2 separate regions of the Homo sapiens genome follow, and region 1 is linked to region 2. Evidence: fine-mapped expression QTL. A gene starts in region 2. The other region holds a variant in brackets. All regions are shown on one strand. Distances are between the middles of the regions.

What was found. PIP is the estimated chance that this variant, and not a neighbour inherited with it, causes the effect.
Region 1: its variant is fine-mapped to the expression of ZNF880 in caudate (GTEx, PIP above 0.99). The same link has a PIP of 0.9 or more in amygdala, anterior cingulate cortex, hypothalamus, nasal epithelium and visceral fat.

Annotation. Positions count from the first base shown.
Region 1 is chr19:52,389,388-52,392,300 of GRCh38, reverse strand. All of the region lies in intron 6 of ZNF528-AS1 (ZNF528 antisense RNA 1), which reads left to right. It also overlaps a transcript of ZNF880 not described here. Among named protein-coding and RNA genes, the nearest start is that of ZNF528-AS1, 6.9 kb to the left of the region's middle. The variant G/A (reference allele first, on the strand shown) is at 1,597.
Region 2 is chr19:52,368,384-52,371,296 of GRCh38, reverse strand. It overlaps ZNF880 (zinc finger protein 880), which reads right to left and starts at 1,374. Exons shown (of 4, transcript NM_001145434.2): 1 at 1,320-1,374. The coding sequence starts at 1,331. RefSeq lists enhancers at 933-1,072, 1,273-1,382, 1,393-1,692.

The DNA.
Region 1 (2,913 bases), 21 kb before region 2:
GAGAGAGAAAGGGAGGAAGGAAAGAGAGAAAGAGAAAGAAAGTCAGTCCATGGTTTCCAAAACATACTTCTGTTTCCATTAATTTATTAGGAATGCTCTTCCATCTGGCTGTTGATCTGTGTCCTGTGTAACATCCTTTATAACAAATGGTACACCTCAGTAAATTGTTTCTCCAAGTTGTGTAAATCACTCTAGCAATAGCAAATTCTGGGGGCAGTTTTGTGCAACTGAGCCCTCAGCCTCCTGTGAGATCTAATGCTAACTCCCTATAAATGGTGTCAAATTGAGTTCAATTAGAGAACACCCAGTTTTTATCTGATGAAAAATAGCTTGTTGGTGGGAAGTAATCCCCACACATTTTGATGACCGGAGATGAGGCATTCTGTGTTGAGCATTCACTATTGTGTTGATTGTGAGTAGAAAAAACACTTTGGTTTTTCCTCCTATCTTATACACTCACACACCCTACCCCATCCCAGAAGTGAAGATAGTGACCCATACCTGAATGAGTCAAGTCACTGCCTGCCGTCTGGCAGAATAAGGACAGCAAATGGAAGCTAACCTCTGATACCAAGAATTAGGAAATGCACATGCCTTATAGACAGTTTTCCAATTCTCATCTTCATCTGTATATTTTAAACAAATGTGATGTTTATTATAGAGAAATTAATCATAATATCCAATCAATTCATCATTCATCTGGATTGAGTGTCCCCCTCTTTCCTCATTACTGTGTGTTTCTCTACCTACCTCTCATTCTCACCTTCTTTTCCTAGCTTTTTTTTTCTCTTTATTTTTCCCCTAGGATTCTCCTCATTTCAAGCCCTTCTTCCTTCTCCTGCTCTTCCCTCTATTCCTTCTCTTCCACTTGTTCTGCTCCTTTCTCACTTCTTTCACCTCTTATTCTTCTTTCTGCCCAATATTTGTCTCCAATTTTCATATAGTTCTGCCTCTTTCTTCCCCCCGTCTCTGCTGCCCCCTAGCTTCCCCTGTTAAATCCCCTCTTCCCTGCTATATCCACCTGTCCCCTCTCTGGCATCCCCAGATCCCAGTTCTCCCCAGGCTGTGGTTCTCCCTGTGCTCTCCTTATCACTGGCTGCCCCTCTTGCTCTCCCAGCACCATGCTGCTCTGTCTGCCCTGGCTCCAAATCCCTCCTTCTCTCCCCAACTCTCCATCTGAGGAGCCTCCCCTTTTCTGCCCCTCTCCCTATCTTGCTGAACTTTATCTCTCTAGAAACCCAGTTTTTCTCTAAATTTCTCTAGTTGCTTTTCTCCCCCTGCTCCTTTCTCAGCATCTTCATGCACTGTCTCTGCAAATCCCTCATCCACCATCTACTTTGCCATCTGTTTTGTTTTGTTTTTTGTTTTTTGAGATGGAGTTTTGCTCGTCGCCCAGGCTGGAGTGCAATGGTGCGATCTTGGCTCACCGCAACCTCCGCCTCCCGGGTAAAAGCGATTCTCCTGCCTCAGTCTCCAGAGTAGCTGGGATTACAGGCATTCGCCACCATGCCTGGCTAATTTTGTATTTTTTAGAGACAGGGTTTCTCCATGTTGGTCAGGCTGGTCTCAAAACTCCTGACCTCAGGTGATCTGCCC[G/A]CCTCAGCCTCCCAAAGTGCTGGAATTACAGGCGTGAGCCATCGCACCCAGCTGCCGTCTGTTTATGGGTCTCCTTCATTCTTCTTTCCCATTTCACCATTTTTCTATTTCCTCTCCTCCACACATTCATAGGGAGGGGACTGCAGTCAGATCCCCACCTCAAGAGCCCATTTCCTGTGGGATGGAATTTGGGACAAGAGAAACCTTAACGTCCTGAGATAGAAGTCACGTCCCCACACTCGATATCAGGAGAAGGGGAGGCCTGGGGAGCAGAAGGGCCCCCGATCAAGGAGGAAAAAGGCAGGAGAAAGTCAGGAGAGGGGCAGGGTCTGCAGGATCCCAGGACCAGGAAGAGTTCACGGCCTCCCTGGGACTGGGGCTGCGTCGCTGCGCTCCAGGAGCTGACGAGGGAGCGGAGCAGATGGGAAGCTCCCAGGGCGGGAATCAACCTTGCGGTGAGGACTTTAAAAAAGGTGCGGGCCAGTGCAGGGGACACTGAAGGATTTGAGGCAGGAAAACTCCGCGATAAGAGCTGTCTATATGGCCCTGTGGCAGAAGCACGGGGGACACGACCCCATGGAACTGTGTCCATTAAACCTCTTTGTCTTCATAAATTACCCAGTCTCGGGTATTTCTTTATTAGCAGCGTGAGAACAGACTAATACAGTAAATTGGTAATGGTATAGAGTGGGGTGCTGCTATAAGGATACCTCAAAATGTGGAAGCAAATTTTGAACTGGGTAACAGGCAAAGGCTGGAACAGTTTGGAGGGCTCAAAAGAAGACAGGAAGACGTGGGAAAGTTTGGAGCTTCCTAGAAAATGGTTGTTGAATGGTTCTGACCAAAAAGTCCAGGCTGAAGGTGGTCTCAGATGGAGATGAGGAACTTTATTGGAACTGGAGCAGAGGTGAGCTGCAGGGGCGGAGCCCTCATGGAGAACCTCTGCTAGAGCAGTGCAGAAGTAAAATGTGGGGTTGGAGCCCCCACACAGACTACTCACTACTCGCCTAGTGCAGCCGTGAGAAAAGGGCCACCCTCCTATAGACCCCAGAATGGTAGATTCACCGACAGCTTGCACCATGTGCCTGGAAAAGTAGCAGACACAACACCAGCCTGTGAAAGCAGCCAGGAGAGGAGCTGTACCCTGCAAAGTCACAGGGGCAGACATGGGTTCCCTGCAAGACCACTGGAACCAACCTCTTGCATAAGTGTGACCTGGATGTGAGACACGGAGTCAAAAGAGATCATTTTGGAGCTTTGACTGCCCTGCTGGATTTCAGACTGGCATGGGGCCTGTGACCTGTTTTGGCCAATTTC
Region 2 (2,913 bases):
CTGAGTATAGTTAAAATAAGTTCCGGGATTAAAATCAAGAAACTGTCGCACATGTATCCCCATAACAGGTTACTATCCTTACAGCCATAGACTCACTATCATAACAGTGTAGAACAATTTTAAGGTCATGAAAATATATAAGATGTAATTTCAACTGTTAAAAGATATAAGACGTATATAAACTGATGATGCGCCTTTGATAAAAACAATAGACTTGCTCATCTGTGCACTCATCCACACACATCACATGTACACACTTATTCATATACATATATACATTCACACACATATACTCTAGTAAACATATATGTGACAACTGAAAGAGTTGTCTGTCAATAACCTCTTTTTTAGATATTTGTCTTTGTTCGTTTTTTAATGTGTCCAGGTTGCAGTGCAGTGGCTTATTCATGGCACACTACAGCCTTGAATTCCTGGCCTCAAATGACACCCTCTCCGAGTAACTCGAATGACAAGCGTGCACCACTGTGCCTGGCTGTCGTTGTTTTTGCAAATGTGCATTTCAGCATGTTTGCAACAATAAAAATGTATAAACTGTGCTCAATTCAGTTTATAAACATTATTTCAAACTATTTCAAAAAGTCAGACCATGTAAAAACATAGAAACGAGAATTCCAATCTCTATTAAATACCCGTACTGAAACATATGTTTCAAAAATTGAGATGGGGGTCTCACTATGTTGTCCAGAGTGGTCTCAAACTCCTGTGCTCAAGGAATTCTCCAGCCTGGGCCTCCGGAGAAGATGGAATTCCAGCCCCGGCCCATAAATATTAGGTTGGTGCAAAAGTGATCGCGGTTTGCCATTACTTTTGCACTAACCTAATTTTGTCCACTAAATATTTATTTAGGTGTTAGCAAAAGCCCAATGGAGGCTGAAACATCACAATCAGCAGTAAACATCAGATCGATTTCCTCTCATTTAAGGCACAGAAAAGGGGGCAGGCCTGTGAAAAGAGGGCGAGGCTTGGGGGACCGGAAAGACGTGGATCCATCTCGCGGGTGAGAACTTTACGCAGCGCGGGCCGTGTCTAGGGGTCACTGAAGGATTTGAAGCAGGCAAACTCCGCGACAGGAGCTGTCTACATGGCCCTGTGGTGAAAGACCGGGGACAGGACCAGCCTCCGAGCGATTTTAACACTCAGGGAAGCGACCGCCAGACTCTCATTAGAACGTCTGAGTTTAGTCGGGGTGGAGGGAGCGATGCGGGGATTTCAAGGTCTGTGTGACCCCTGAGATGCCGGGTACAGAAGCGCGAGGGGACTCAGCATCCCAGATTTAATCTAAACAAAGGGAAACTCACACGCCGCAGCATGACCGTCACTCCACGTAATCTGCTTCCGGGTCTCCAGGAAACTGCGCGCGCAGCTGAGAGGCGAGGCGAGGCCAGGCCCGGGTGGGATTGGGCGGAGCCTGCGCTTCCCTCCGCCTCGCTCCCAGCTCGTCTCGTTTTGGAGGCTAGACCTGCCGTGGAGACTGGAAGAACTCAGCTATCTGGAAATAGATTGTGTCCCGGCAGAGGGAAAGTTTGTTGATGATTAGATCCAGGAAAATTCCTGCTATTAAAATTAATTTTAAATCGGCTGTAGGGGCGCTCGCATGTGGTCCTAGCTACCCGGATGCTGAGGTGGGAGGATCGCTTGAGCCCATGAGGTGGAGGCTGCAGTGAGCCGAGGTCGTGCGCTGCACTCCCGCCTGGGCATGAGAGAGAAACCTTGCGCCTAATAAATACATAATCATAAATAACAAATTGGAAATAAATAATTAAAATAAATAAATATAAATGAATAATAAACACTAGTTTCCGGAATTTTAAAGTCCTTGAATTGTTTATGAAGGGGATGCAAATTAAAATATGAAATGCAAAACCCTGCCAGGGCGGAATGTGCAATTTCCTTTTTTTTTTTTTTTTTTTTTTGGAGACAGAGTTTCGTTCTTTTGCCCAGGCTGGAGTGAAGTGGCGCGATCTCGGCTCACTGCAACCTCCGCCGCCTGGGTTCAAGCGATTCTCCTGCCTCAGTCTCCCGAGTAGCTGGGATTACAGGCGCCCACCACCACACCGGGCTACTTTTTTGTACTTTTAATAGAGACAGGGTTTCTCCATGTTGGCCAGGCTGGTCTTGAACTCCTGACCTCGTGATCCGCCTGCCTTGGCCTCCCAAAATGTTGGGATTACAGGCGTGAGCCACCGCACCCGGCCAAGTTTTTTTTTTTTTTTCATATTTATATTAATCCTAGTGTATACCTGCCATTGTCTTATGGACATACTCAGGTCACAACTTTTTTTTTTTTTTTTTTTTTTTTTTTGAGATGGTCTCCCTCTGTCTTTCAGGCTGAAGTGCAGACAGCTCACTGACTGCAGCCTCGACCTCCTGGCATCAAGTGATCCTCCCATCTCAGCCTCCCAAGTAGCTGGGACTACAGGCACACGCCACAATGCCCAGTCCCATGTCACAAAATTTTGTCTCCAAACAGCACTCATTTATTTGTCCCCTAAAGTTTTCACCAGAGCAAAACAGGGAAGAAATGTATTAAACATAGAATTTGGAGGCAATGTAGGAAAAAAATGTAAAAATATATATACATACAAAAAATATAAAAATATACATGCTAGGTGTGAATTGTAACTAAGTTTCCAGTATGGGTAGTGGGTATCCCCGCCCCAGCCCTACCCTTTAGCAATCATGACACCCCAAGCCAGTCACCTATCCCAGTTCTCTGAAGCCACTTTTGGACCAGCTGGAAAAGTATACCCTGCTTTCCCCCACAGAGCCTCATTATATAATAAACACTCTCAAACCATATCAGTGTATGGGATCATCATTCTCAAGATCCAAGCCAAACCTTAGGGGGACTTCAAACAAGTTCCAGAAGAGTGGTCAAAAATTCAAATTACC